Linked DNA regions of Homo sapiens. The protein of the gene in region 1 interacts with the protein of each later gene in a biochemical or structural test. Each region holds a gene or a part of one and is shown in the gene's direction. Other genes may lie near its edges.

The links.
Region 2: of the proteins of NEDD4L (region 1) and ABL2, one has a biochemical effect on the other in vitro, tested with the Homo sapiens proteins (one large-scale study listed by BioGRID).
Region 3: the proteins of NEDD4L (region 1) and TCEAL2 form a complex in vitro, tested with the Homo sapiens proteins (one large-scale study listed by BioGRID).
Region 4: the proteins of NEDD4L (region 1) and STAC form a complex in vitro, tested with the Homo sapiens proteins (one large-scale study listed by BioGRID).
Region 5: the proteins of NEDD4L (region 1) and PIP4P2 form a complex in vitro, tested with the Homo sapiens proteins (one large-scale study listed by BioGRID).
Region 6: the proteins of NEDD4L (region 1) and APEX2 form a complex in vitro, tested with the Homo sapiens proteins (one large-scale study listed by BioGRID).
Region 7: the proteins of NEDD4L (region 1) and SMAD2 form a complex in vitro, tested with the Homo sapiens proteins (one study listed by BioGRID).

Annotation. Positions count from the first base shown.
Region 1 is NC_000018.10:58,326,471-58,330,725, forward strand, and holds part of NEDD4L (E3 ubiquitin-protein ligase NEDD4-like), read left to right. Parts: intron 1-2,524; coding exon 2,525-2,657; intron 2,658-4,255. UniProt on the Homo sapiens protein: E3 ubiquitin-protein ligase that mediates the polyubiquitination of lysine and cysteine residues on target proteins and is thereby implicated in the regulation of various signaling pathways including autophagy, innate immunity or DNA repair.
Region 2 is NC_000001.11:179,117,904-179,122,158, reverse strand, and holds part of ABL2 (tyrosine-protein kinase ABL2), read left to right. Parts: intron 1-291; coding exon 292-564; intron 565-1,884; coding exon 1,885-1,969; intron 1,970-3,394; coding exon 3,395-3,572; intron 3,573-4,255. UniProt on the Homo sapiens protein: Non-receptor tyrosine-protein kinase that plays an ABL1-overlapping role in key processes linked to cell growth and survival such as cytoskeleton remodeling in response to extracellular stimuli, cell motility and adhesion and receptor endocytosis.
Region 3 is NC_000023.11:102,123,934-102,128,411, forward strand, and holds TCEAL2 (transcription elongation factor A protein-like 2), read left to right. Parts: upstream 1-1,745; 5' UTR 1,746-1,873; intron 1,874-2,439; 5' UTR 2,440-2,512; intron 2,513-2,870; 5' UTR 2,871-2,897; coding exon 2,898-3,581; 3' UTR 3,582-3,779; downstream 3,780-4,478. UniProt on the Homo sapiens protein: May be involved in transcriptional regulation.
Region 4 is NC_000003.12:36,378,572-36,383,622, forward strand, and holds the start of STAC (SH3 and cysteine-rich domain-containing protein), read left to right. Parts: upstream 1-1,932; 5' UTR 1,933-2,072; coding exon 2,073-2,183; intron 2,184-5,051. UniProt on the Homo sapiens protein: Promotes expression of the ion channel CACNA1H at the cell membrane, and thereby contributes to the regulation of channel activity.
Region 5 is NC_000008.11:90,995,351-90,999,605, reverse strand, and holds part of PIP4P2 (type 2 phosphatidylinositol 4,5-bisphosphate 4-phosphatase), read left to right. Parts: intron 1-2,861; coding exon 2,862-2,952; intron 2,953-3,785; coding exon 3,786-3,929; 3' UTR 3,930-4,255. UniProt on the Homo sapiens protein: Catalyzes the hydrolysis of phosphatidylinositol-4,5-bisphosphate (PtdIns-4,5-P2) to phosphatidylinositol-4-phosphate (PtdIns-4-P).
Region 6 is NC_000023.11:55,005,899-55,009,751, forward strand, and holds the end of APEX2 (DNA-(apurinic or apyrimidinic site) endonuclease 2), read left to right. Parts: intron 1-619; coding exon 620-1,537; 3' UTR 1,538-3,159; downstream 3,160-3,853. Other genes in the region: ALAS2 (5-aminolevulinate synthase, erythroid-specific, mitochondrial isoform a precursor), read right to left, coding at 3,282-3,445. UniProt on the Homo sapiens protein: Functions as a weak apurinic/apyrimidinic (AP) endodeoxyribonuclease in the DNA base excision repair (BER) pathway of DNA lesions induced by oxidative and alkylating agents.
Region 7 is NC_000018.10:47,920,263-47,924,517, reverse strand, and holds part of SMAD2 (mothers against decapentaplegic homolog 2), read left to right. Parts: intron 1-4,255. UniProt on the Homo sapiens protein: Receptor-regulated SMAD (R-SMAD) that is an intracellular signal transducer and transcriptional modulator activated by TGF-beta (transforming growth factor) and activin type 1 receptor kinases.

The DNA of each region.
Region 1 (4,255 bases):
CCTTTTGATTAATGCCCATAGCTATTAGAATTATTGTAATCCATTGTAGCTATTTGTAGTAAAAATGAATTTGGACCCACCTTGGGCTTGGTTACATGTAGTGACTAGAAGAATCTTGGTAGCAATATCCTAAGCAAAGCACCATTACCTACCTTTGCTCAACAGCATGAGAAAGGAGTACTGAAAAGGTAGATCCTCATGCGACCTCTGCAGAAAAGTGGCCAGGAGCAACTCACAAAGGAAAAAATCCTGATAGCTAATATGTATATGGAAAAATATTCAACTTCATAAATAAGGATCATGCAGATTAGAGTTTGTATTTTGGGGACAAATAGGGATAATTGCTACTTTCTCTGCCTCACAGAGTTGTGAAACTAACGAGGGAATTCTTGAGAAAACACTTCATACATTTTAAAATATATACTATTTTTTTGATGGCTCCACAGGTGTAGACATGTCCCCACACTCATCAAGAGGTGTACGTTAAACATGAACAGCTTTTTAATGTGTTGATTAGACCTCAATAAAGTGATTTAAAAGAGAAACCATCTTTGGTGGCAGTGTCCCAGAAACTAAAACAAAAGGTATAACTTGCTGGCTCTTCACTAGTCTAGAGCAACAAGGGAAAAATGCAGTTCTTTTTCTGTTGTTGTTTGAGACAGAGTCTCACTCTGTCACCCACAGTGGCACCATCTCGGCTCACTGCAACCTCCGCCTCCCAGGTTCAAGCGATTCTCCTGCCTTGGCCTCCTGAGTAGCTGGGATTACAGGCGCCCGCCGCCATGCCCAGCTAATGTTTGTATTTTTGTGAAGATGGGGTTTCACTGGCTTGGTCAAGCTGGTTTCAAACTCCTGACCTCAGGTGATCCGCCCACCTCAGCCTCCCAAAGTGCTAGGATTACAGGTATGACCCACCACGCCCGGCTGAAAAATGCAGTTCTTAATCCAAGTTCGGGCTCACATGTAGTTTTGGGAGAAGGCAGAGGCATAACTGCCCCATCAAGGAGGCAGCAATGCCAAAGGGAGAGGCTGAGCCAGGAAGGACACAGCAGAACTTGGCAGAACCTGAGGAGCGCCTCCTTCCAATGGGCATAACTTCTAGAAGGCAAGAGGAAAGTTAGTTAAGGAAAAAGAGTTTCCACCACAACCTCTGCTAGCAGGCCCTTTATTGGGATACAGTATAAGTTCATTTCAGAATGTGTGAGAAAACTTTAAAATTTGTGTTTTAGAAAGAGTCTATAATGAGTGTTCTTGATAAGTACTATATTTCAGTTAGTCTGAAATGACGATTTCAACTTTTGAGATACTGACTTGTGACATAATTTTTGTTAATGGGATATGTTATCTTATTGAAAGTATCTGTGAGAGTTTTCCCTGAAAAAATTTTTGGCATTTAAACTTGTACACTAAAAGCCTCTGACTAGTATTTCCCCCAAAGTATGATTGCCTATAATTTACTGCAAAAAAAAAAGTTTTCTTTTTTCTTTTTTTTTTTGTTTTGTTTTGTTTTGAGATGGAGTCTCACTCTGCTGCCCTGGCTAGAGTACAGTGACATGATCTCTCAGCTCACTGCAACCTCTGCCTCCTGGGCTCAAGTGATTCTCCTGCCTCAGCCTCCTGAGTAGCTGGGACTACAGGCACGCATCACCACACTCGGCTAATTTTTGTGTTTTTAGTAGAGGCGGGGTTTTGCCATGTTGGCCAGGTACGTCTTGAGCTCCTGACCTCAAGTGATCCGCCCGCCTTGGCCTCCCAAAGTGCTGGGATTACAGGCATGAGCCACCATGCCCAGCCCAAAAAAGTCTTCCAAATTGAATCAAAACTTTTAGATCCTGAATTGAGAACATCACATGACAAAAAATAGGGTATGATGTTTTGGTGTTCTTCAGACCCCGGCTGACTTGAGAGGTTATCTCCTGATGTTATTAGGATTTTTAAAGTAGGGTAAAGGAGGTAAATGCAGTGTCACGATTTTGAGATTCTGTTAAAATGAGCTAGAAAGCAGCTGAAAAAAATTCATGTTGGATCAGGTGTACTTTCCTCCAGATGACAGCTTTGAATTTGTCCCTTTTGTAGTCTTTGGTCAAATTGCTGGTGACCAGAAGTAGCTGCCTTGTCATTGCTGGACTTCTAGAAGGATTGGGACTGCCCAGCTGCTGTGTGAACTTGCCTGTCACCTCTGCTTCCAGAGGTCTGACTTGTCACTGTGGCAAATGGGCAGAGGACTTTGATTTCTGTTTTTTATTAAACACTGAGGTATATTTTGAAATGTATGCCTGAAAGATGCTCAAAATGGTGTGACTAATGCATTTTAAAACTGCATTTATTTGATTGAAATGAACCTTAACCTATACTTTAGCCGTAATATGGTGGGAGAATTCTCACATTGGATGACCAGCTAGTTGTCAGTGTTTGACGCTGACACTTTAGTGGCCATCTGGCCCTCCGTGAGCATTGAACTGTCATGAAGGGCCCGATCTCAACCACTTCTCTTCTTCTCTTTCCCCCTTTCCTGCATGCTCAGGGACGTGTCCTCGGAGTCGGACAATAACATCAGACAGATCAACCAGGAGGCAGCACACCGGCGCTTCCGCTCCCGCAGGCACATCAGCGAAGACTTGGAGCCCGAGCCCTCGGAGGGCGGGGATGTCCCCGAGGTACGATGTCCCCAGAATGGTGCAAAGCCCGGCAGCTCCTTCTTCCCATGTTCTCCAGCTTGATTTTATATCATAATTTCTTCTGTCAGTAAACATTGTTGAGAATGTAAAGATTACAGTGACGCAGGGAATTAATTACCATCTGAATATTAATTTGAAAGTGCCTATAAAAGCCGTATTTGACAAGTATAGGTGGCTCTATATTATAGAAATGGGAATAACATTATTTTTATTTTTATTTTTTTTGAAGACAGTGTCTTGCTCTGTCGCCCAGGCTAGAGTGCAGTGGTGCAGTCTTGGCTCACTGCAACCTCCGCCTCCTGGGTTCGAGCAATTCTCCTGCCTCAGCCTCCTGAGTAGCTGGGATTACAGGCACGCATCACCACACCCGGCCAGTTTTTGTATTTTTAGTAGAAATGGGGTTTCACCATGTTGGCTAGGATGGTCTCAATCTCCTGACCTCGAGATCCGCCTGCTGCCTCAGCCTCCTAAAGTGCTGGGGTTATAGGTGCATGCCATCACAATGGCTAATTTTTTTTTTTTTTTTTTTTCCTAGTAGAGACGGGTTTCACCATGTTGGCCAGGCTGGTCTTGAACTCTTGACCTCATGATCCACCTGCCTTGGCCTCCCAAAGTGCTTAGATTACAGGCGTGAGCCACTGTGTCCAGCCCACATTATTTTTCAGTATGAAAATCTTAAGATATTTTTAGTTTGTAATTTATTTTTCACAGGGGTCTAACCATGTCTCATTAAATGACAGCTTGTTTTTATCATAGTTGAGCTGTTGAATGAGCCCTGTAACTTGTTTGGGTATCATATGCATATTTTTATTGAGTCGCTTTGACACTTGGAAGAGATTTATTACCATGAAAATATAAATTTAGGTGAACAGAAATGTGTAATTTTCCCTTTAAATAGTTATGGTATGTTACTTAAAACGTTATGAATTAAACAACAAATTAGCCATAATCTTCCATGCTATCTTACCAGCTCTGTTTATGTACTAAAAATCCATTCTTCTTAGACATTGTGTTAGGAAGATCATTTAGAATGCGGCGATTCAACTTGGAAAAGCAAAAGTAATGATTCCATAACACATTCACTCTAAGTTATTTTATACCATTGTTTAATTACAGCGTATAGCTTCTATGCTGCTCCCACGGTGAATCCTCAGTGGTTAAAAGTAAAAGAAAATCCATGACAATTGTTTATAAACTCCAGAGAAGTGTGTGTGTGTGTTTGTTTTTTTGCCCACACATATAGTAACAAGTGCTGGAAATCAGTCACTGTTCAGAGAGGCATTGTTATAAAGTGGTTAAGAGCACAGCCTCTGTCTGGAACCAGGCCTCTTTGATTCACATCATGGCCCTACCACTTGCTAGATGTTACCTTGGGCAGGTTATTTTCTGTGCCTCAGTTTCCTCATCTGTTAATTGGGGGAGTTATCTTCCTCGTGATTATTGTGAAGGTTGTGTGCCTCATGAGAGGCACTTAGTAGGTGTTAATTATAGTTATCACCGGGGCTATTGTTGTTACATGGTTTCATTGGGGAGCTGGGTGGATCCCTACTTCTTTCTAGTGTTTACCCCAGTGTCTC
Region 2 (4,255 bases), on another chromosome or scaffold:
GCAGATCACGAGGTCAGGAGATCAAGAACACGGTGAAACCCCATCTCTACTAAAAATACAAAAAATTAGCCGGGCATGGTGGCGGGCGCCTATAGTCCCACCTACTCAGAGAGGCTGAGGCAGGAGAATGGCGTGAACCCGGGAGGCGGAGCTTGCAGTGAGCCGAGATCGCGCCAGTGCACTCCAGCCTGGGTGACAGAACAAGACTCCATCTCAAAAAAAAAAAAAAAAAAAAAAAAAAAATTCTTAATCTCTTTTCAAGTTGTTTAGCTTTTCTCCTTTTCTTACCAGGTGTATGTGACTGCTGAGAGCCGCTTCAGCACCTTGGCAGAGCTTGTACACCATCACTCCACAGTGGCTGATGGGCTGGTGACAACATTACACTACCCAGCACCCAAGTGTAATAAGCCTACAGTCTATGGTGTGTCCCCCATCCACGACAAATGGGAAATGGAGCGAACAGATATTACCATGAAGCACAAACTTGGGGGCGGTCAGTATGGAGAGGTTTACGTTGGCGTCTGGAAGAAATACAGCCTTACAGTTGCTGTGAAAACATTGAAGGTGGGTTGCTGAGAATTACAGTTTTCAGGCATCTTTTTCTTTTGTGCTCAATCACTTGGAAATATCAGCATGCCCTTCTTTAACTTTGGAACACTTTCCACCCACTAGTGCCAAGCACATCAGCAAATTGAGATGATTAACCCTAGTGCCATTGCTGACAATGCAGAGGTAGATTATTCACTGCAATGCAGTGAAACCCACATGTGGGAAAGGTCTGTCTCTGGAGGCTGTTGATGTAGATCTTAGTGGGAGGTTAGAAGCAAATTAAAAGTTATAAAAGCAAAATAAGCTCTTTTGCTTCCTGAGAACGACCCCTGCTGGACAGAATTCTTGTCTGAGAGTCATGGGCCTCTTTCTTGTTCTGTCCTTTCTCTCCCTTGTTCTTGTTCCTCCTGTCTCTTTGCAGTTAGATCACTTCTTAATATTAACAGAAATCTTTTTCGTAGTACTACTATATGTCTCCTTTAAACATCCCAGTATCAAATTATAAGGTTTTCACTCACTTGATTCTCCCAGAGCCTCAGTAACTGTCTCTGGTGTATCACTTATAAGGGCTATTCTTTAGCTATTAAGTAGTAGTCAGTTCTGTTTCTTAAGCATATTCTGAGTGTGAAGCAATATATAAGGCCTTGCTCTCTAAGAAGATTATGATCTAAGCAAGAAGATAAGTATGTAAGCAGCTAAGTGCTCTGTCTCGTCATTCAAAGCCTGAGATATCTGGAGAAGTAAACTATGAGAGAACTGAACTATCCAATACAGGGCTCCTGTGTTTCAGTTGATTATAGGACACGATTGCTGAATTTTGCTCCTCCTGCTAATTTTTACTCCAGGGCATTTTTCTTTCTAAGTTGGACTTCTTAAAATAATAATTATTTCAGCTGGGCGTGGTGGCTCACACCTGTAATCCCAGCAATTTGGGGAGCTCAGGTGGGCGAATCACCTGAGGTCAGGAGAGCATCCTGGCCAACATTGCAAAACCCCGTCTCTACTAAAAATACAAAAAGTAGCCAGGCATGGTCGTGCATGCCTGTAATCCCAGCTACTTGGGAGGCTGAGCCAGGAGAATCGCTTGAGCCCAGGAAGCGGAGGTTGCAGTGAGATCACACCACTTCACCCCAACCTGGGTAACAGAGCGAGACCGTGTCTCAAAAAAATAAATTAAATTAAAATAATAATTATATCTTGTAATATGCTAAAATATTCAAAAGATAGTTTTTACTTTTAAAGCTGAAGCTTTATGATTGTGAGATGAATGAAATGATTTTAAGTTGAGGGTTTGTCCCTCTCGTTTTCTTCTTTCTTACCTTTCCCTTTTTCTAGGAAGATACCATGGAGGTAGAAGAATTCCTGAAAGAAGCTGCAGTAATGAAGGAAATCAAGCATCCTAATCTGGTACAACTTTTAGGTGAGGAACCTTGCCTGAACCATAGATTTCCTCCAAAAATGCTTGCCCTTTAACCCCTTGTTATCTCCAAATGCTTTTTTTTTTTCTTTTTAAATATAGAGACAGGGTCTCGCTCTGTTGTCCAGGCTGCTGTTGACGTGATACTTCCGCCTGGGCCTTTCAATATGTTGGGATTACAGGCATGAGCCACCATGCCCCGCCTTTTTTCCTCCCCCAAACCTTTCTTTTTAGTCACCATGGTGGAAGCTGCAGGTTTGAATCCACTTCAATAAATAGTTATTTTAATCAGTAGGTTCTGTGTTTAAAAATAGCCCAAGAAACAGTGGCCTGGATTGATTTTGGTGTATAAAACTGCTCAGTTTGTACTAATTGCCCCAGATTCAAAGTTCAGAAGTGTTCAAAATGGTACTGAACCAAAAACTCATGAAATGTTTTTGCAAAATAAAGAGACATTAAACAAAGGACTGTTGAAAAGAAGCAAATTAAAAACTGTGACCACACCCCTCAGTTTACCTTTACAAGCAGGAAATGCTTTATTATGTTAGATTGGCTTTTCACTGTTCAGGTCACAAAGAACTCTCTTACTAAGCCTTTTTCCTTTTTTAAAATAGGGCCAGGTTTTTTTTTTTTTCTTTTTTTTGGGGGGGTGTGGGGGGTGTTTTTTTTTGTTTGTTTTTTAAATACAGAGTCTTGCTCTGTCACCCTGGCTGGAGTGCAGTGGCATGATCCTGGCTCACTGCAACCTCCACCTCCCAGGTTCAAGCTATTCTCGTGCCTCAACGTGCATCACCACGCCCAGCTAATTTTTGTAGTAGAGACAGGGTTTTGCTATGTTGGACAGTCAAGTCTTGAACTGCTGGGCTCAGGCGATCTGCCTGCCTCAGCCTCCCAAAGTGCTAGGATTACAGGCATGAGCCACTGCACCCGGCCTCTTGTTGGTTTTTTATAAGGAATCTGCCATATATCAGTGAAATCCTTGACTATGGAAATGATGAAAATCATTTTGCAAAGCAGTATTGCAGGTGGGGCTCACATAGTCTTCAGCTTGTGCACAATTGCTATTACTTTTGAATAAGTATTGTTAGCCTGCAGTTGAGGAGGAGAATCATGGGCCATGTGCAAAACTCTAGACATGTTGGTTTTCTTGGCCCCTTATAGAATTAATACAGGTAACTCTGCTTTTGCTCAAATAGACAAATACTCAGAGGCATATGAATTCCCAGAGAACAATACAGTGAAAGCAAGGACTCCCTTATAAACCAGCTTCTTAGTTTTTGCTTATTAATTTCAGAGAACGTGGTGGTAAGAAGGGAAAAGATTATTGCCGAACTAGACCTGAAAAATTGTCAAATTATTCTTGGCCAAAGTGGTTTGGAGTGTTTGAATGTACACTAATAAAAACAAGCACTATTGTTCAACTTTTAGGTGTGTGTACTTTGGAGCCACCATTTTACATTGTGACTGAATACATGCCATACGGGAATTTGCTGGATTACCTCCGAGAATGCAACCGAGAAGAGGTGACTGCAGTTGTGCTGCTCTACATGGCCACTCAGATTTCTTCTGCAATGGAGTACTTAGAGAAGAAGAATTTCATCCATAGGTGTGTAAAACTTACCTCTGACCAACCATGAAGCCATCTTGCTTGACATGCAGATAAAAGGAAGAATGTGAGAACCTTCCCAGAAAATTTCAGATGATTCAAGAAAGTAATTTTGTATTTCACAGGGCCCATTATAATGTCACTTCTAACTTGTAAACCTACTGTACTCTGATTAAAGTATTAATAAGGGGCCTTTGCTATTCTCAAACCTGAGAACTCTCTTAAAAAAAAATTGCAATAGTGATGGGGTCTTGCTATGTTGACCAGGCTGGTCTCAAACTACTGGCCTCAAGTGATCTTCCCATCTTAGCCTTCCAAAGTGCTGGGATTATAGGTGTGAGCCACCATGCCTGGCCAGAGAGCTCTCTTTATTTTGCCAGCACTGTATCCAAGATCCTTTTTCACCATCTAGTGGCTTTTTTTTTTTTTCCTTCTTGAGACAGGCTGGCTCCATCGCCCAGGCTGGAATGCAGTGATGCGATCTTAGCTTACTGCACCCTCAGCCTCCTGGGCTCAAGCCATCCTCCCACCTCAGCCTCCTGAGTAGCTGGGATTACGGGAATATGCCACCATGCCCGGCTAAGTGTTTTTTTATGGTTTTTTTTTGTTTGTTTTGTTTTTTGTTTTTTTTTTGTAGACTGGGTTTCGCCATGTTGCCCCGGCTGGTCCTGAACTCTTGAGCT
Region 3 (4,478 bases), on another chromosome or scaffold:
AGGTAGTAATTACTTGAGGAACAATGTGTCAATTTATTACATGCAAATGCAAAAGTTGTGTTGACTTCTCATTTTGTGAACAGATCTTTTAATTTAGATAAAATGACATTTCTTCAAATTTAATGATACTAATTTTGAATCCCACATTTTTGTGTATATGTTTTAAAAGAGGAGAAATAGTTGTTAATACTTTGGCTCCATTAGCAAAATAACTTAGCAAATAGTTACTGAAGACAGCTTAAAATCACTATAATTAGATGATTAAAACAGAAAATCAGTTCTTTTCAACTGATTTGATATTATTTTCATCAAATTCTTGAATAATTATAATAATTTTATGGAAGTTTATACTGATGAAATTGAAACACCTAGCCTCGATAATTCAGGAAAAAAATTCAACATTGAGGACAGAATTATTGGTGATGTGGTGATAATGACGAATACACATATTGATAGAGCAAAATACTGTAGGAAGATCAAGGTTTTACTAAATGAAGAAAGATGTGTAGCAGAAATATAATCAGAATTGCTTGTGTAACACACATAATTCATAATCCTGTAATCATGATAAGGTATTTTGCAAATCAAAATAAAAATAGTTGTTGCCCAGATATACACAAGACATACACATACATATGTACACACATATACATCTATACATATATGTGTGTATAAATAAACATGTGTATATATACATATACATGTCACTATACTGTAGAAGCTAAAATATTGGTGATTCTTAGTTTTTGTGGGTGGTGGCTTCACGAATGTGAAAGAAAAGGAAAGAAAAAAAAGACAAAGGATGGGAAGGGGAGGAAATAATAGGACGGGAAAGAAAAGGGAAGGAAGAGGGACAAGCAGGGATCGATGATAAGGGTGTGTTGTAAACCAAGGACTATGATGAATTTGTGCATCTGAAATTCATATTTAAAATGTTTTAATGCTTTCTTTTCTACCTGTCTGACATTCTCTCTCTATGAAAACTGATCAAATGTTGGAAGGTAAGTTTCAAGTGTGGAGAGAGACCAAGGGAGATGGCAAGAAGGAAGTTGGTAAATCAATTTGGGGTACACGGGCTTTGGGGTCCCTCAGGGACACTCAGGCGGTGATGTCCAATAGACAGTTGGCAAAGCTGATATGAGACACGGAGAAGGGAACAGCCTGGAGCTGTAGATCTGGGAGTCATCGGTGTTTACTGGAAATGAATGAGATCACACAGGGAGAGACAACTTGAGGACTGAGGAGAGAGGAGGCCCAGGACAGAACCCCAGGAACACCGCCACTCAAGGTGGCAGCTCAGCTTCCTGGCAGGCACCACTACCCCCCGGGCTCTGGAGTCAGGCAGAGCCGGTATTGAAAGTGGGCTGTGGAGTTCTGGGGCTGAGCGCTCTTGGCAAAGTCCGGTACCTCTATGATCAGCTGTCACACCTGGCGATAATGGGCATCAGAGAGATATGCCTTGCGAGGATGCTGTGAGCTGCGTCAGGTAAAGCACCTAGGGTCAGAAAGCCACCTCTCCTCCTCTTCTCCGCGACCCCACTTTGCTACACAAACGCACCGAGACTCCGACCGTCCCCAGCCTCCGGTCCCTCAGGGATGGAAGGTGAGGTATGTCAGGAAAGAGAGGGGGGCCCAGCTCCAAGGTGAGGTGTGTCAGGCAAGAGCGGGGGCAGAGCTCCGGTGACGCGGTGCTCACGTGACCCGCCCGGCGCCTACGTGGGCACCAGCCCCCGCGCCCGCCCGCCAGCCCGCCCAGCGGTCGGGTCCGGGCGCCCGCGCAGAATCAGCTGTCTGAGCTGCCCAGGCGGCGGGGGAGCAGCGAGCGGGCTTCAGCGAGCCGCAGGAGGCACAGGCCTGTCCTGGGTCCCCGCAGGTCAGTGTGAAGGCGTGCGCTGCCGGCGGACCCTGGGACAGGGGTGGAGGGGGCTGGCAGTAGGATTGGGGAGGGGGCGGAGAAGGGATCCGGTAGATTGGGGAGGAGGGGGATGCGGAGTCGCGGGGGCGGGGGCAGTGGAGGGAGAACCCCCGAAGCAAGCCTGGCTCGCCTTCTCGACGCCCCCTTGCACTGAGTCCTCCATCCATTTTAGTGCTGGAAATGGGGGGTGGGGGTAGCGACCCCGCAGTGCGACAGTGAAACGTAGACATATTCTGGAAATAACCCCTTCTCACAATCTACACCCATGGAAACACTTGATCTCCGCAAAAATGAGGTGGCGCTGGGGCAGGTTGCCTCCGGGGAAGGGGGACACAGAGACAAACGCAGTTTGGAAAGCATCCTGGTTTGGTGCCCGAGGCCTGGAAAGAAATGGCGGCTGGGGTGCGGGGGAGGTAGGGGAGGAAAACGGTGGGTAAGCAGGGCCTGGACTCAGGAAAGGGAACCGAGTCCCTGTGAGCCCGCTAAGCGCGCAGCCCCTGCCCCTGTCTCCTGTCTGTCCGCAGGTCTGCGCGTCTGTTGTTCCCAGCGCTCTGAGAGGCCTGAAAAGGAAGAGCAACCTGTCCAGAATCCCCGCAGGTCCGTGAAAGCAGGGGGCTGCATGGACAGGGGCCCACAAGGGTTGAGAGTGTGGAGGGCACAGTCAGGGCCGAATTGGGGCCCCTGCCCATCCCCTTACCTACATGAACACACACCTTACCAGGCTGAACCAGTGCAGAGAAGGTGGCAGGGCCTGCCAGGGAACAGCTGGCTCACGTGTGTGGGAGGAGTGGTGGGCTACGTGGTGGGCAGAAGGCCCTCTTGGAGGCCCAGTCAGCTTAGGGGAACCCTCACCAGGGGTGAGATGCAAGTAGTATCCAGACCTGCATTCCACCCCATGCCCTCAGTCTCCCATGTCTCCTCTTTGTCTCCTCTTCCCTCCACACCCATCCCCCAGGAAAGGAAAAGGAGGGGAAATCTCGACATGGAAAAACTCTTCAATGAAAATGAAGGAATGCCTTCGAATCAAGGAAAGATAGACAATGAAGAACAGCCACCGCACGAGGGAAAGCCAGAAGTAGCTTGTATTCTGGAAGACAAGAAGTTAGAAAACGAGGGAAACACAGAAAACACGGGCAAGAGAGTTGAGGAACCGTTAAAGGATAAAGAAAAGCCAGAGAGTGCGGGAAAGGCAAAAGGAGAAGGAAAGTCAGAGAGGAAGGGAAAGTCAGAGATGCAGGGAGGATCAAAGACAGAGGGAAAGCCAGAGAGAGGGGGAAGGGCAGAGGGTGAAGGAGAGCCAGACAGTGAAAGAGAGCCAGAGAGTGAGGGAGAGCCAGAAAGTGAAACAAGGGCTGCAGGAAAGCGCCCAGCTGAGGATGATATACCCAGGAAAGCCAAAAGAAAAACCAACAAGGGGCTGGCTCAGTACCTCAAGCAATATAAGGAAGCCATACATGATATGAATTTCAGCAATGAGGACATGATAAGAGAATTTGACAACATGGCTAGGGTGGAGGATAAAAGGAGAAAAAGCAAACAGAAATTGGGGGCGTTTTTGTGGATGCAAAGAAATTTACAGGACCCCTTCTATCCTAGGGGTCCAAGGGAATTCAGGGGTGGCTGCAGGGCCCCACGAAGGGACACTGAAGACATTCCTTATGTGTAGTGTCCCTGGCAGGCATTTGTCAGGCCATATGTTTTAACCTTATGGTAATACTTTGCTTTAGTCGTTCCTCCTGCTACCAGTAGCGTTTTGACCCACCTGCCAGTGTTTGCTTGCTCTATGTTTCAGTAGCAGATTTTCACACATGTGCATTGCAGAGACGTCATGATTCGTGGAAAAATAAAGCAGCTTATAATATCATCTACAGAATCTGTCTGTTTTTGTTAAATACATGAAAGGTTAACAGTGGTTTTCTGAGTTGTGAGCTAGCAGGTGATTTCATTTCTTTGTTTTCTTTCTACTAATCTTTCTTTTCCCAGAGAACACAAATTACTTTTCTCACAAAAATAATAAAATATTTTTAAAAAATCAGAACAGTATGTAAAAAGCAAAGAGAATAACTGTCCAGTGAACTTATGAAGTTCAGTAGAGACACTTAACGTTCTTGTTGTCAGAACTTAAAATGATAGGTAAAATTCACATTACCTACCTGTGGGACTCATCTGGAGAAGTCAATCTGGGGTTATTACAGATCCATTGCTCTAACGGACAGTCTTTTCATTTGTCAAATAGAGATAATACCTTGCTTTTCAGAACTGCTGAGTGGGTTGGATAAGGTAGAGAATATATTTGTTGGGTTGGCATCTACCTTCTCCCCTGCTCTAGCAGAAAAAAATACCCCCTCAGACACTTGGAAGAGGACTAGGGTAAATCTTACCTGTGTCCAGGAATAAGTCTAGGAAACTGAAAGGTGGGTGCCATCCTCTTTTAGACAATGTCATGTCCACTGGGCACTGTGCTCCTTCTCATAAATCTTGCACCCTCCTAAAGCTCACATTGATGCCGATGGGCTGAAGTTCTCAAGGTAACAAGGTCCAGTTGATTTCCAGTGAGCCAAGC
Region 4 (5,051 bases), on another chromosome or scaffold:
TGAGCTAAGCACTTACTAAAAGTAAGGATGACATCTTCAATTCTTAAAAAAAGAAAATCCAAAAGAAAAAAAGGATGAAAAATTTATTGTTCTAAGCCATGACATGCTTGCTCACCAAGACTGGAATTGCCAGTAGACCCTGGGAGTTTTGTTTCCTAAGAAAACCCTCGTCTGGCCCCATGCTAGCTCAGGCTTCATTTGTACACACTCATCAAAGTCTTGTACTTTCCCTTATCATAGTTTTTTTTTAAATGTGTGTGTGATTTAATTAATTGCTGTCTCTCCCACTAGACTTAAATTCCAGGAAAACAGACTTAATCTGTGTTTTCTCTCTGCTGTATCATTAGTTTCTGGCACAATTCTGATACAGAATAGATGCTTGATAAAAATGTGTTGATATGGCTGCTCCTGTCATTGTGTTTGTGACTTTGGCTACTAGAATTCTGTCTCTATCGAACACTCAGGCATTGTGTTGTGAGAAGGAAAAAGCTGAAGCCATTTGGGCTAGCCAATCTGGCCCCGTACTGAGGGTCACCAGAAAATTTAGAGCATTTTGAAAGCTAAATGCTGAGTAAGAGGCTGACACATTGAACAGTAGCTTTCAATTGACATCTGGGATGGAAAGAGTAAGAGCAAGTTTATTCTAAAAGACATGAGCTAGGGCATGGATGCAGGACCAAACACATAATTTGCAGGGTCAAGTACAAAATGAAAATGTGATCTCTTGTTAAATATTTTTACCGAATTTCAAGATGGCAGCATCAGCGCGGGGCCCTGTGTGACTGCACAGGTTGCACATCCATGAAGCTGTTCTTGCAAACATCTACAGCTAATTTTAAAAATCTGAACAGAAGTTTGCAATTTTGTTTTAAAAAATTGAGGGTATTTTGTATTAATGGGGGAAAAGAGGCTTTTAAATATCTAGGTGTGTTTCTTTTCCCTGCACACTGAGGTTGTCTTCAAAAGAAACTGGACCCTCTGTATCTTTATTCAGTGGGGCTATTCCTATGTTTCCAAAAGATTTAGTAAGGCAGGCTGGTTTGCCCCTCTGTGAACAGTCCTCAACTCTTGCTATACTGCAACATCCAATTGCTCTTCAGCCAAGACCTGGCCTAGATTTGAGGCTCCACAGTCGGAAATGCATGGATTTTGAAGCCCAAATGTGTTCGAATTCCAGTTTCACCAATTATAGTTTAGTGACTTAAAGCAAATTACTCAGTCTTCCTACAGCCTCAACTTCCTCATCTATAAAATGGAAGTGATAATCCCTAGACGCATAGAGTAGCTGGGAGGATTAAATAAGGTAAAAAGAAAGGGTTTAGTACAATAAGTGCACAACAAACGAGGAACAGGTGTCCATATACACACTGCATTATCTCTCTGCTTTAGATCAAAGCTGAATGGAGAAAACGCAGTGCCCGTGAGTCAGGGGACCCCCACTCCGACCCCTGCTCTCTGTCACTGAACCCTATAAATAGCTTAGCTAAGTCACTGTCTCAGTCACTATTCGTTGGGGTGAGGAATGAGGGAGTTGTTGCAAGTGGCTCTTTCTGGCTATATCATTCACAGATTTTCTATTCTTTGGGGTTTGGGTCTGAATTTTCAGCATCCTCTCTGAAGAATCACCCCCACCCAGTGCCGGCGTGCGCCCAGCCTTCCCCCAGCCCTTTCCAGGGCGCTGCCCCCTGCCTGCCCTCACTACTCCAGGCGCTGGCCGCGCAGCCCCGCCCTGGAGCTGCCTCCCCGCCTCCTTCCTCCTCCTGCGGGCGAGCAGAAGCCCGCTCGCCCGCTGCCGAGTGGCAGTCACGACTGTGAGGTCGCCGGCGAGGTGGCCGCGGGCGCGGCGGGGCGGGGCAGGGCGCACTCTCCTCCACGCCCGCGGAAGTGCCGGGGAGGTGGGCAGGGCGGGGAGGGAGAGGGAGCGAGGCTGGAGGAGGGCACGTCGGCGCCTCGGCGAGGATGGGAGTCCCCAGGACCCGGAGCTGAGCAGCCTGGCGCGCGGCGGGCAGGGCGCGCAGGACAGAAGCCTCGCTGTTCCTCCGGGAGCCCAACACCGTTCCCGCGCGGCCACGATGATCCCTCCGAGCAGCCCCCGCGAGGACGGCGTGGACGGGCTGCCCAAGGAGGCGGTGGGCGCCGAGCAACCGCCCTCTCCTGCATCCACCAGCAGCCAGGAATCCAAGGTACCGAGCACGCTTGCCCCCAAGAGAACACAAACTCACTCTCCTCTCCTGTCGGTCCAGCTTTGTCTCTCCTCCTATCTAGCACGGGCGTGGGGGTCTGAGACTTGCTAGTTAGCCCAGGGCTGTAGGACTTGAACGTCCGGTAGGACCCGCTGCTCACGATGCTGGACCACGTCCCTGTGGACCCAGCCTTCCCGCCCACACATTCACACACGCAATTCATGGTGGCTCCGGGTTCAGAGATCGATTTCTTGCGGGGTGGTAGCTTGGTTTTTTTTGTGCTTTGAACCTGCTTGTGTCCAAAGCACGTGTAGGTAGGTATTAGGTGGCTTCTGAAGGCTGAGGGATGGAGACAGCCGAGGGATACTCTTCCAGAAAAGCTTGAGTACTGGGCCAGAAAAGCATGTATGTATCCCAAGGGTCTCAGAGACCTTTTGCTTAACAGGGATCACCCCTACCTTCAGATACTACTCACTAAAAAAGAAAAAGAAAAAGAAAGGGTTTGCCTGCGTTTGTCTGAAAGTTGATGTTCCTCTTGTGAAAGTTAATACTCTAAGAACCTATACTTGCTTTTATGAAAGTTACACTAACACGTATACAAAAAACCAAGCCCGCAGCAGTTCTCCTGTCACTGTTACACTTCCTCTGAAACTCCCGTGGGTGCCAGGCACATGTTTGAAAATCTTGGAAGAGGATAGAGTAAAATGTGGCTGCTAGCAGTGCAATGCCAAATGGCAACTCAGCTGGTGGTGGAAATCCTAAGATGGAGTTTGTAGTTATGTGGATTCTTTTAAGTGTAGAGCTCCTGGCTCTTTATTCTGATTTCATTGTGCGATCCCCAGGCATTTGGGGAATGTGAGGCAGTCCGTGTATACCAGCAAAGGAAAGGGGTTGCCAGTTTATAGGATAGGGACAGGCCAGATGGGGCAAGGAAGACTGCGATCCTGTCTCTCTTCACATGCATCCCTGGAAGCCATTGATATGATCAGGAGGATGAAAATCACAGCCTGAGTGGCTCTGGGGATTTGGTGTGATACTGGGCACTGTACATTTCCCAGCCCCCTGAAGTTAACCATCAATGATGGTAATCTAAGCCCGAAAGCTTTACATCTTATTTATTTTTATTTTTTTCCTGTTACTTACTGGCTGCCAGACCTGGGGTATGTGTGTCAACTTTTCTAAAACTCGGTTGGAAATGAGGGAAAAAGCCCCAACTTCCAGAGACATTGTGAGGAGTACATGAGAGGCCCTAATGTCCACCTGGTATACTGTAAGGACTCAATCATGTTTATCCTTTTCCTTCCTGAGATAAAGAGATGGAATCTATCTCATCTCAAATGATCCACTCCAAAGCAATCTGATAACCCATACACATGCACTACCTCTCCTCAGTCAAAAAGTTTCTGGGTATCATTGCCTCCCATTGAACATCAGTCCCCAGAGTGATATAGGTTAGTGGCCATTTTAGAGGAAAGCTAGAATTCTATAAATGAATGTAGCTGAACTCAAGAGTAAAACTAGTATTGAACTTTTTGAATTGGCCTGTTGCTCTGCAGTAGGCGTGTTCTGGAAAGGGCTTAGCATTTGGGCAAACAGTGGCATGGTTCAAATGCATTATATGGATTTGCTATTTATAGATGTCCTAATGGAAATTATTTGGCAGAGCAAAAGCCACATATGTAATGCCCATAATTATCCACCAATTTATCTGGCTTATGGTTTTGTACAAATTAGTTTTTCTCAAAGTGGTCTATACACCGGATGTGTGTTTCTACATTCCTAAATTTGATGTCATGGCCTCAGTAAGCTTAATTAGTGGAGATGAACTATGGCAGCCCATGAACCCTAGGAAATTGAATGCAATATTGTATGCCTACATGTGAATTTTTCTTGGCATAGCATTCATGATATTCTCAAAGTGATCCATGCCCCTTAAAAAAGGCTAAACTGCTAGTAGGGAGGAACGTGTGGTAAGGTAAGGGAGTAGGATGGCATGACACTGGAGGAGAGGAAGGCTCAATTCATTCTATTCTAGGAAGGCCACATGTTAAAGCTTACTGGCGTTTACAAGGATCTTTGACCCTGAGCATGAGAGCTTGGTGAGGAAAATGTGAACAAGACAGTAATATGCATTCCATCTTACTCTTCCATGAAGTGGTCTTGTTTGTAAAATATCTTGTGGGACAAACATGGTTCAGGCCCCCTTGGCATTAAACTCTCTCAAGGAAGACTTAAAGTTACTTTTTTTAAAGAGTTAGGTTTTTTTGTCTTATTATAAGAGTAACAAATACTCTTTGTAGATATTTGAACAGTCCAGACATAAATGATGAAAAGAAAAATAAATTAGCTCTTGGTTTACCATCCAGAAGCATCTACTAATAAAACTTTGATCTATATCTCATGTCTTTTTAAATCTGTTTATATATTTACATAGTTGAGCGAGAACAATAGTGAGCATCTACTGAATGTTTACTGTAAGTCAGATACAACCTTAATCTTCACAATAGAAGATTCTGTTAATATTTCTATTTTATGGATGGGGAAGTGGAAGCCAAGAAAGGTTAGATCATTTTCACTGTGAAAATTTATTATGGAAAATTTTAATATACACAAAAGTAGAGAAAACAGTATAAAGAACTGTCATGGACCTAATCATGTGGCTTCACAATTAATTCATGGACAGTATTGTTTTATGTATTACCACCACCACCACCACCCTACACATACTGGATCATTTTAAAGCAAATTCCAGACATGAAATAACTTCACCCGTAAATATGCTATCAGGTTACATCTCTCAAGGATAAGGGTTATTTTCATTTTATTTTCATAAACATGACTATAATCCCAATTAGCACATATTTCAGG
Region 5 (4,255 bases), on another chromosome or scaffold:
CTAGCCTGTCTTGCAGATAGTGTGGCCATCTTTAAGTTAGGACCAATGGAATGTGAACAAAAGTGATGAGTACAGTTTTCTGATACTCTCCTTAAAGACAAAATTGCCTGTCTTCGTTTTTTCTCTCCTCTTTGAATTGAGTGGAAAAGCCAACTGGCAGGAATGTTGTTACCTGTGTAGAGTTTGGCAATACCAATCAGGGAGTACAGCTGACTACCAACCCTAGGCTGTACATTTACCTTTAAGTTTTATCTGCTAGAAAAATAAACTTATTTTTAAACTTCTGTATTCTGAATTTCTGAATGTTACGTTCCTTTCTCTCTACAACCTCACCAGCATCTGTTATTTTTTGACTTTTTAGTAGTATTAATTCTGACTGGTGGGAGATGGTATCTCATTGTGGTTTTTATTTGCATTTCTCTAATGATCAGTGATGTTGAGCTTCTTTTCATAGAATTGTTGGCTGCATGTATATCTTCTTTTGAAAAGTGTCTGTTCATGTCCTTTGCCCACTTTTTAATGGGCTGGTTTTTTTTTCTTGTTTAAGTTCTTATAGATGCTGGATGTTAGACCTTTGTCAGATGCATAGTTTGCAAAATTTTTCTCCCATTCTGTAGGTTGTCTGTTCACCCTGTTGATAGTTTCCTTTGATGTGCAAAAGCTCTTTAGTTTAATTAGATATCATTTGTTCATTTTTGCTTTTGTTGCAGTTTCTTTTGGTGTCATCATCATGAAATCTTTGCCTGTTCCTATATCCAGAATGGCATTGCCTAGGTTGTCCTCCAGGCAACCTATATAACTATAAATGTTATAGTTTACATTTAAGTCTTTAATCCATCTTGAGTTAATTTTTAAATTTGGTATGAGGAAGGAGTCCAGTTTCAATGTTCTGCATATGGCTAGCCAGTTATTCCAGCACCATTTATTGAATAGGGAATCCTTTCCCCATTGCTTGTTTTTGTCAGGTTTGTTGAAGATCAGATAGTTGTACGTTTGTAAGTGTGTGGCCTTATTTCTGGGTTCTCTATTCCGTTCAATTGATCTGTGTGTCTGTTTTTGTACCAGTAATATATATTGCATGTAGATACCACATATGTACTAAATATGTAAGAGATTTTATGATTAATAAGTGCTTGTTGGTCATTGCCTTATCCTGTGAGGAGATGGCACTTGAGTTGTGGAGTAGCAGTAGGTTATTTTTTTCAGAGAAGATTTCTCAGATGTAGTGACTATTTAATTTGAGTGATGAAAAGAGAGCACAGGTTTTCTAAGCAGAATTCATGCACTGAAATTAATGTACTAAAGTGTATTCTCTTGGCTCACAGAAAAGCCGCTCTAATATTCACTTAGAAACTTTTGACTTATTCAGTACATAATTTTAATAAGCTTAGTTGGCTTCTAATAAATGGTATATTACAAACTGCCAAATGCAGATGCACAGGCAGTGATAAGAAACAACAACCAGATGTGATGTATAAGGCAAGAAAAACCACCAGTGGATGCATAGAAATTAAAACCAAAAATAGACTAGGGCTAAATGTTACATAAAAGCAATGAATCCTGCATGCCCTAGTAACTCTAGATAGCAAGCTGTACAATATAGTAATTAATGGTGGTCCCCAGGTCATCCAGATGTTTGTGTTTGGGCTCAAGTACCCAGGAAAATTTACGATGTATATTTGCAAAAAACTTCATCAGTTTTTCAAAAAGATTTGGAAATTAAAGGAAATAATTTTGTATGCAAAATTAACCTATTTGGAATCACATGTTTCTAAATCATGCCTAGTAAGTGATGAATTTCTGTATTTTACTTATTCATCAGACATTCTTTGAGAGGTTATTATGTGTTAGGCATAATCTTGACACTGGCCACACAAAGGTGAATCAGATACTTCTGTGTCATTCACTAACACGATGCCTTGCATATGGTATATAGTAATAAATATATGTACGTTAAGACAGAGAAGAAAGTGCTAATTTGGCTACTAATCTCTGCTATAACTTATATCATTTTGAAAATTACCACAATTAGATACAGAGAGGGTGAATACTATTAGATTTGGAATTTCAATTGAGTAGCACAGTAGAGGGCTTTTAGCAGTATGTATTAAAAACAATTCAAAAAGTTTAATCCCTTTAATTTGTAATCCTAATTCTAAATTTAAAAATCTTAAGAATGATTAAAAATAAGCACAATGCTTTTAAATGATACTTTGTTGGCATTATGTATAATAATGAAGATACTTTAATGTACAATAGTAGAAAATTTTTTAATTATGTTATATTCATCCATCAGAATTTTAGTTTGAGAATATTATGGGAAAAAGTTCATGCTATATATTGGTAAGGTACAAAATTGGCTACAGGAAAGTATGCAAAAATACTGAGTGACTATTTTATGATATTGGGATTATAGGTAATTTTTTCTTTCCTTTTTCTTCATTGTTTCTTTCCTTTTTATTCTACTTTCTAAATTTTTTACATAAACACATACTCTTTTAACTGTAAAAAAATCAAATGCTATTTGTAAGATAGCTGTTTTTCCATTCTGAAATAGATTTTTTTGGAAATAAACTTTTATCTTGGGAGATTAGTAGGTACTACAATGGATTTCTGTGGATATTATCAATGACCAAGGCTTGAACTTTGTTTAAAGCCACAATAATATCACAAATTCACCCTGAACGATTTTGTCACCCATTAAAAATGACATGTTTAATGCATGTTCTTGTCTGTAAAGTTGAAGCAATGAATAAAAAGTATATAATATTACTAAAGCCATAGATAAGAACTCACAAAAATGAAATAGAGAATTTTTATGTAAATACTTAATGTTCTCTTTTGCTTTCATGAATTTGCAGCTCCTCAGTGGGTAGTGCACTTCCACGAAGACGCTGCTGTGCATATATTACCATTGGAATGATATGTATTTTCATTGGAGTTGGGTTAACTGTGAGTGTTACACTTTGATGTTAGAATTCTGTCCTCTCAACTTTATCAGTAGTCAATCATGAGGCCTGGGACAACCTTCAGGGATTCCTGAAGAGGCTGCCTCCTTGGCATGCCAGCACTAGAAGCTTCTGAATGATTATGAGCAATCAGAAACCCAATCCATGGACCTCTTTTTGATTGAACTCGCCCATCCAAGTGAAACGGTGTCTTTTTACCTCCAAAAGTCCTTACTGTTGGGGATTTTATCATCTATTTAGCAAAAGCCCATTTAAAAAAAAATCAGTGCCAGAACTAATTTTTATGGCTATGGGGTCTCTTATTATTCAAAGCAATATTCATTCAGCTACAGAGATCTAAAAAAACCACTCTTCTCTTTATCCAAATCAAGCAGAGATTTATTACCAATATGAGGATGGCTTGTTTTTAGAGAAGACTGGAGCTAAGCAGTTAGCATGGGGATTATGCCAGAAGAGGAAGATAATCTCTTTGGCTGCCATTTCCATGCTCCTTTGTTTGTCAGTACAACTAGTCCCTTATTATTAGCAATGTCCTATTGTGTCCCATGATAGTAAGAAGTTACATGGATTAAATTCCTTGTAGAGATAATATAGTTTAGTGTGCTTTTTTGTTTACTTCATAACATTTATAGTTACTACAAGTAGCAGTATGGTCTATCAGTTGCAGTCAACAGATACACCTACTCTTATAAGGACTTTGTGTATTCGGTCTGGGGGTATATTTCATAACAATCACATGTAAGCTGATACAAGTTCCCTAAGCAGATATTTTTTAAAGTTTCTAATATTTTGTTTTTATATTGCTTTTTATTTTAGGTTGGCACCCCAGATTTTGCAAGGCGATTTCGAGCAACCTATGTTTCTTGGGCAATTGCTTATCTCCTAGGATTGATCTGCCTTATCCGAGCTTGTTATTGGGGAGCCATAAGAGTCAGTTATCCAGAACACAGTTTTGCATAAGCTTGTTTATGATTCAGTAATGCAGGTGAGAGTGTCTAGCAGTTCTTGGTAAGCTACTCTGGACATCTTTAAATTATTTATCCTAATGGATTCCATTCTGGTTTATGTATAATCGTTTCAAGACTTTGGGAGTCTTTTATGAACAAATGCTCATTGCACTATATTATATGCAAATTGTTTTGCTGCTAGGTTTTCAAAATTTGAATAATAAAGCCTTTTCATGTTCTTTTACATCTCTTATAGATATTTTTGGATTTGTTACCAAACATTACATTTACTCTCACCCTTTTATTATTTTTAAATAAGTTATTTCATTACTTGCTGAT
Region 6 (3,853 bases), on another chromosome or scaffold:
GTCCCTGGCATCATGCATGGCACATAATAGGTATTCCATGAACATTTCTTGCATTGAATGAGTGGGTGGGTAGGTGGATTGAATGGATGGACTGATGGATGATGGATTGGGGATCAGAGCCTAAGGAAGTATTCAGACCTGGATCCTTGCAGGTCCTCAGCTCAGGAGGTAGGAATGGTCATTGAGGGCTTTGACACACTAGATAAACCAAATAGTGCCAGAGGGTTTAAAGGAAGAAGCTGACAGTCTTCCTAACTCTTAACCCCAGCCCTGCTTCCTAGAGGCAAACACTTTTAACTTCCTGTTTTCCATCCTTTTGAAAAGCAGTTCCAGGAATTGCTTTGAGTAAGCAAACTTTCAGATTTGCCATTGACGGACCAATGCAAGACAAATGCAAGCTCGTGCAGAGGGAAAAACAAGCATGGTCTTTTAAATCAGTAAGGATGAAAATCAGAATCCCAGCTCTGCCAATTCCGGACTGTGTGACCTTGAGCAGTAGTCCTCTTGGGACAACCAAATTTTCTTATTTGCAAAATGCAGCAGTTAGTCTAAGTCCCTTCCAGTTCTAGGTATCTAGTTCTGTCTCTCTCTCTTCCAACCCCCTTTCCTCCTCACCTAGGAATGCTTTGAAGAGGACCCAGGGCGCAAGTGGATGGACAGCTTGCTCAGTAACTTGGGGTGCCAGTCTGCCTCTCATGTAGGGCCCTTCATCGATAGCTACCGCTGCTTCCAACCAAAGCAGGAGGGGGCCTTCACCTGCTGGTCAGCAGTCACTGGCGCCCGCCATCTCAACTATGGCTCCCGGCTTGACTATGTGCTGGGGGACAGGACCCTGGTCATAGACACCTTTCAGGCCTCTTTCCTGCTGCCTGAGGTGATGGGCTCTGACCACTGCCCTGTGGGTGCAGTCTTGAGTGTGTCCTCTGTGCCTGCAAAACAGTGCCCACCTCTGTGCACCCGCTTCCTCCCTGAGTTTGCAGGCACCCAGCTCAAGATCCTTCGCTTCCTAGTTCCTCTCGAACAAAGTCCTGTGTTGGAGCAGTCGACGCTGCAGCACAACAATCAAACCCGGGTACAGACATGCCAAAACAAAGCCCAAGTGCGCTCAACCAGGCCTCAGCCCAGTCAGGTTGGCTCTAGCAGAGGCCAGAAAAACCTGAAGAGCTACTTTCAGCCCTCCCCTAGCTGTCCCCAAGCCTCTCCTGACATAGAGCTGCCTAGCCTACCACTGATGAGCGCCCTCATGACCCCGAAGACTCCAGAAGAGAAGGCAGTGGCCAAAGTGGTGAAGGGGCAGGCCAAGACTTCAGAAGCCAAAGATGAGAAGGAGTTACGGACCTCATTCTGGAAGTCTGTGCTGGCGGGGCCCTTGCGCACACCCCTCTGTGGGGGCCACAGGGAGCCATGTGTGATGCGTACTGTGAAGAAGCCAGGACCCAACTTGGGCCGCCGCTTCTACATGTGTGCCAGGCCCCGGGGTCCTCCCACTGACCCCTCCTCCCGGTGCAACTTCTTCCTCTGGAGCAGGCCCAGCTGAACCAATGGAGGCCTGGGGACATCTGGCATGGTCACCCCTGCACATGATCTGAGGCCAGCTCCCCTTCCCTGAGCTGCCTCCTGCTTCTCCCTCAAAGTCTCCTACCCTTCTCTTCCTCTTTTAAGCCCTCTCTTCCTCGCTTTCCTTCCTACCTAGCTCCTTGTTGGTGAGCTTCTTGTGCCTTAATCCTGTGACCCAGCCCCTTACACCACTTTCCACCTTCCTGTCCGAAGTACACGGACACTAGCTGCCCCAGGAAGTTGTGTGATTTTAAATCACTTCTGTCTTTGCTGGAAAGTGTATTTGTGCATAAATAAAGTCTGTGTATTTGTTTCAGGGTTGCACTTTGGACATTGTGGAGGTACTCCATAAAGTTGAGTCAGAGAAGCTATCTCAATACTTGGTTTGCCGGCTGGCTGTAGCCCAATGATGTAATTCCCAGAGAAAGGGGAGGAGGGAGGGGGGAGGAGGGAATAGTGAGGCGTGAGCAGCAGTGCTCACCATAAAGGGTTCTCTGCTCAGTTGTAGGAATTTCCTGTACGGCTAAGGTGAAATCAGCAAGGAAGGTGGGCTGTGTAGCCTTAAACCAGAGCTTTCCAGCTAGTGCGTCCCACAGCTGCCACAGTGGGTTACAGGGTTGAAAGAAACGGTCCTCAGCCCTCAGAGTTGCCAGGCAGGGCCTGGGACCACACAAGTTTCAGGGACGATTGCCTCCTTAGCAAGTAGTATCATTAGTACCCCTAAGTGTGCCATGGAAATGTTTCCTGTATACTGTGACCTGGAAAGTGGGAGCATTGCTTTGAACACAGTGCTTGCTCTAGCCAAGCCTCTTCTCACCTTTGAAAATGGGACTGGTAGACCAGGCACAGTGGTGCACGCCTGTAATCCCAGCACTTTGGGAGGCTGAGATGGGTGGATCACCTGAGGTCAGGAGTTCGCAACCAGCCTAACATGGTGAGACCCCGTCTCTACTAAATACAAAAAAATTAACTGGGCGTGGTGGCGCGTGCCTGTAATCCAAGCTACTTAGGAGGCTGAGACAGGAGAATAGCTTGTACCTGGGAGGCGGAGGTTGCAGTGGGCTGAGATCATGCATTGCACTCCAGCCTGGGCAACAAGAGTGAAATTCAGTCTCCAAAAAAAAAAAAAGAAAAGAAAAAGAATGGGACTGGTAAATCCTGTTCTGTGGGATGCCGTGGGAGGGAGAGAGGATAATGGATTGAGGAAGACATCCATATCCCCTTATGGAAAATACCTCTTTGGTTTTGGGGAACCACTCCTTTCTAGGGAATTTGGTTAGGGCTGACTCATTTCCTGGCTTCAGGGGCTACCCTGGGCCCAGATTTCCAGGGCCCGGATTACCAGTGAAGCGTCAATCCCTGGATTTTTATTGAAACCATTGGAGAAGAGCCATCTCAAATAAATCTGCCAAGTATCCTAGCTCTTTGCAACTCACTGTGTAGTTTTTGGGCATTTCCTTCCTCTTTCTCATTCTGTTTCCCTGTTGGTAAAATGGAATGGTGACCAACAAGTGACCTATGGTTACCTCATAGATCTGCCACTTGTCTGAGGGAGTCAGAATGCACTTGTCTGTTCCCTGTCCAATAAAAGGCTTCACATGCTGTGGTTTGTGCTTTATTTTTAGGCTCAATTCAGCTAGAGGCACACAACAAAGCAGAAGACAGGAGTAGGCCTGGACCCAAGTGAAGCGCAGGTGGGGTGTGAATCCTAGGCAGCTGGCTTCTCAGGCATAGGTGGTGACATACTGGGGCCCCATGTTCCCGAAGTAGGAACGTTCCCACTCACTCATGAGCTCAAAGTGTACAGGACGGCGACAGAAATTGCAGGCAGCCACAGACACATCCTGGAGGGGCAGCCCCACCGCAGTCCAAGCCAGCAGCAGCTTCTCTGAAGGTGGTAGGGGGAGGGGAGGGAAAAAATGGGTTAGACTAGATCTTCCAAATCTGTCACAGTACAGATGAGCCAAGATATTGATCCCCCTCAACCCTTCAAGATACCTCAGGGCCAGAAGTAGCCTACTGTTTGCTTCTGTGTGTGCCGTGAATATTACCATTTGTATCTGGATGCTGGGATATATATTATAAAAGATTTGGAAGCTCTCCTTTGACACAATTTGAAGCCATACTGTCCTGGCCTGGACCACTCCCTAAGTATAGGATGTGCTGTGGCCCAAGAATGACTGTCTGCTTGGGAACTCTAAGCCCTATGAGGACAATGATAATGACAGTAACTATACTGTGTCATTGGTGCTATGACCAGGAAACCTGGGGTAGGGGGTCCACCTGGGGGTGTGAA
Region 7 (4,255 bases), about 10 Mb from region 1:
TGCTCTCCAGCCTGGGAGACAGAGCAAGACTCCGTCTCAAAAAAAAAAAAGAAAAAAAAGAAAATGTGGGGTGGCAAATCTTTTTTGCAGAGCCTCCTATATAAAATCCTCATAAATGATGCAGTGGAAGCTGGGCCCGTGAGCCTTCTGCCTTGACTTGAGTGAACTATTGAAACTCTTTTGTTGACTAGAGATACTTTATCTGTGGTAGTAAATGTAAATTTTCCTTATTGAGATCCACTTTTAAAATTCTTTTTTTTTTTTTTTTTGAGACGGAGTTTTGCTCCTGTTGCCCAGGCTGGAGTGCAGTGGTGCGATCTTGGCTCACTGCAACCTCCGCCTCCTAGGTTCAAGCAGTTCTCCTGCCTCAGCCTCCTGAGTAGCTAGGATTACAGGCATGCGCCACCATGTCCGGCTAATTTTGTATTTTTAATAGAAACGGGGTTTCACCATGTTGGTCAGGCTGGTCTCGAACTCCTGACCTCAGGTGATTCGCCCACCTTGGCCTCCCAAAGTGTTGGGATTACATGCGTGAGCCACTGCGCCCGGCCTAAAATTCTTAATAGACAGGTAGTTAGGTTGTAGTTCATGTTAGCTGATCAATTAAACTTTTTTTTAAAAAATGTTTTAGTTATCAGGAGGGTCCAGCTTTGGCCTGAGGTTGTGCATTGGCCATTTCTGCTCGAAACCAGTAGTAGTCAGACTTAAAACATGTGCACACCTGCACACACAGCAGCAACTAGAAAGCCTTTAGAGAGAAATATGCAGAATTTCGAAATGTAAAACAGATAAAAGGAGTAAAGCTGTTTTGTGGAAGGAAGAATAGGCAGTTGTTGAAGTCCTGCCTGATCAGTTTTCCTCTCATCCTCACCACCAGGAAGCCTTTGAAGCACAGCTGAAGAACAGTAGGTCTTGGAGAAATTTTTGCTGTAGACCTGCTCTATCTTAACAGGTAGCTGCCAGCCACATGTGGCTATTTAGCACTTGAAATGTGGCTGCTGTGACTGAGAAACTGAATGTTAAATTTTACTTAATCTAAATTTAGATAGCCATATGCAGCTGATGGCTACTGTATTAGACAGCACAGATACCCAAGGACATTTACATCATTGTATAAAGTTGTGTTGGGTGGCACTACTCTAGACTTTGCTTTAATTGAGCTTTTATGGCCTGAGGACCCCACTCACGTGAATTGACGTGGTATTAGTTGCTGCTTCAGAAGAGGGTCAGGATAGACTTTGGGAATTTGAAGAGCAATTAGAGTACTTGTACTTTATATTTGTGCTGATTTGAGTCTGGGCCTGTGTAGTGTTGTCATAGGTGCTTTTTTTTTTTTTTTAATAATCTGGGAATGATAAACCAATATGTAAGTTACGTGTTTACAAGTTGATTATAGAGTTGTGGATTCCACAAAACTCATTATAGGTGATAGGAATATAACTCTTAGTTAAAAAAAAAAAAATAAGTAGTCTCTTTACACAGCAGTCCCTATTTAATGTGGACTTTTGCTAAAATAATAATTTTCTTGAATTAAATTCAAGCTTGCATTAGGTTTGACAGTCCATAAAGTTGAACACATGAATGTTTTCTGTTTGCTTTTGTTTAAAAGACATGACCCATCATTCTCCATGGGGGCCGACCTAGGTTTCCAGTTGGCAGTGTCTTTCCTTACTAGCTTACGCTTTGGAGAGAACATAGTTGTAGTGAGAATTGAAAAATCTGTTTTTAAAAAATTGGGTTTTATGTATTTTAATTTTTTTGAGGTTTTCTATTATCCTGGTTACTAATGAATTATTTATTTGACTAAAACAGTTATACAATTCCAGGTCATTGATGCTGCTGTTTTTTTCTCTGCCTTGTAGTATGTTTGAACATAGATTGCTAAAAATCTCGGTCTCCACAGAGGATTGGTTCCGGGACTCTCCTGCAAGCACCAGAATATGAGAACGCTGAAGTCCCTTGTATAAAATGGTGTAGAATTTGTTTTATGCACATTTTATTGTTATTCTTTAAATCCTCTCTAGATTACTTAATATCTAATACAATGTAAATAGTTGTTATTCTATATTGTTTTAGAAATGATGAGAAAAAAGTCTGTACATGTTCAGTACAGTCACAGTTTTTTCCTGAATATTTTTTATCCATGGTTGGTTTAATCCATGTATTTGGAACCCACAGATAAGGAGGATTGACTGCACAGTGATTTTATATTATTTCTAGTGGGACCTTAGATGTTCTAGATGAGGCAGCACCATCATATTTAAAGTATTTTTGTTGAAATAATTAACTTTGGTTTTCTTTCTAAATAAAAATTCACATAGGTATTTGGGGAATATTTTGTATTTTCCTGCAGTTTGAAGATTTGAAATTTCTCTTCCCTCCATACCTTTTAAAAGTGCAATCTACTTTTGCTTTCTACATTTAATCACTATCTGTTCTTGACTTCAACTTTGCAAACATATTTTTTAACCATTCTTTTTCACATTTCCCTTCCTACTGGCCTTCCGGATGAACTGTCAAGTTTAGCAGTCTTTTCTCAGTGATCATACTTTCTTCAGTGTTTGCTGTTATTGTTTATACTGTCTTTATCTAAATTTCTTAAAATGACACAGACACAAGTTAGGCCCATTCTTCTTACTGTAAACAGATGAAAATGTTGGATAAAATATAAAAGTTTTCTCTTATGTATACAGTTGATCTTGAGAGAGAAAGTGCCCAGGTACTAGAAACTTAGAAAAATCAGTCAACTTTAAGGGAAGTGTGGCCTTGGGGGATTTACTAGAGATAAGATTCAGTAGTTGGGGCTGAGGTTATAATGCCATTCAATGAAAGGAGACAGAACTGTGGGAACTGTGTGCTTAAAAAAATTAAAAAATGAAAAGTGTTCTGGTATCATTGAAACATCTGGGGCTTCTTGGAGAAAGAAGCCTCAGACCTCTCTATGGAGGAACTGGAAAAACAGTAGGCTTTAGATGGACTTTAATATCACAGCAAGGCAAGGCAGGGTACATGAAAACATCTACAGCTGCATGTGGAATAGTGAATTTTTGTATACATAATCCATGACTGCAATCCAAAATTCAGGGATACCCAGTGAAGAGTCTCTTTACTGGTCTGTTCTTTGCCATACAGTTGCCTTTTCAAAGGCAAGTAGCTTTACTAGGTTTTTGTGTGGTGTTCCAGAGATTTTATGCATCTATGAACAATTTTGTGTGTATATTACCTTTTAGTACAAGTGGTCACATATGTCACTTAATAGTACATCTTATTTTGTGTCAGTATGTAATGAATGCCTTTCTTCTTTTTTGGAGTAGTGGGTTGTATAATATTCTTTTGTATGGGTGTCTGTAAATTTTTTTTTGAGACAGTGTCTCACTCTGTCACCCAGGCTGGAGTGCAGTGGTGTGATCACAGCTCACTGCAACCTTGACTGCCAGGGGTCAAGTTAATCTCCCACCTCAGCTACCTGAGTAGTTGGGACTGCAGGCGCATGCCTACCATATCCAGCTAATTTTTAAAATTTTTTGTAGAGGTGGGGTTTCGCCATGTTGCCTAGATTTGTCTTGAACTCCTGGGCTCAAGCGATTTGCCTGCCACGGCCCCTCAAAGTTTTGGGATTACAGGCGTAAGCCACTGTGCCTGGCCGGGTGTCTGAATATATCATCAGTCCTCTGTTGAATGTTTCCAGTCTTGTGGTATTAAAAACAATGCTACAACAAATAACTTCGTTTATATAGCATTTTGCTCCTTTGCAGGTATGTCTGTAAGATAGATTTCTAGGAGTAGTTCAAAGAATATCTACATTTGTAATTTATTTTAGAGAATGTACTTTATTCATTTTTTCGAATAACACATGCACATGGTATAAAAGTCAAGGAGAACAAAATAGCAAATACTGAAAAAAGTAAGCCTCCTTTACATCTCCTACCTCCTGCTGCCCAGTTGTGCTTTCCAGAAATGTAACCACTGTTACTAGCTTTTCGTTTATCCTTCTAGAGTTGCTCTGTCCAGTATGATAGCCACTAGCCACCATGTGGCTATTGAGCTCTTGAAATTGAGATGGACCACAAGCATAAAATACACACCAATTTTCTAACAGTACAAAAACAGAATGTTAAATATTTCAATGGTTTTTAATACGGATTGCGAATTGAAATAGTATTTTGGATATATTGGGTTAGATTAATAAAATTATTAAATTATGATTTCATCTTGTAATTCCCGCTGTGATGGCATCAGGAAATGGGATCTTTGG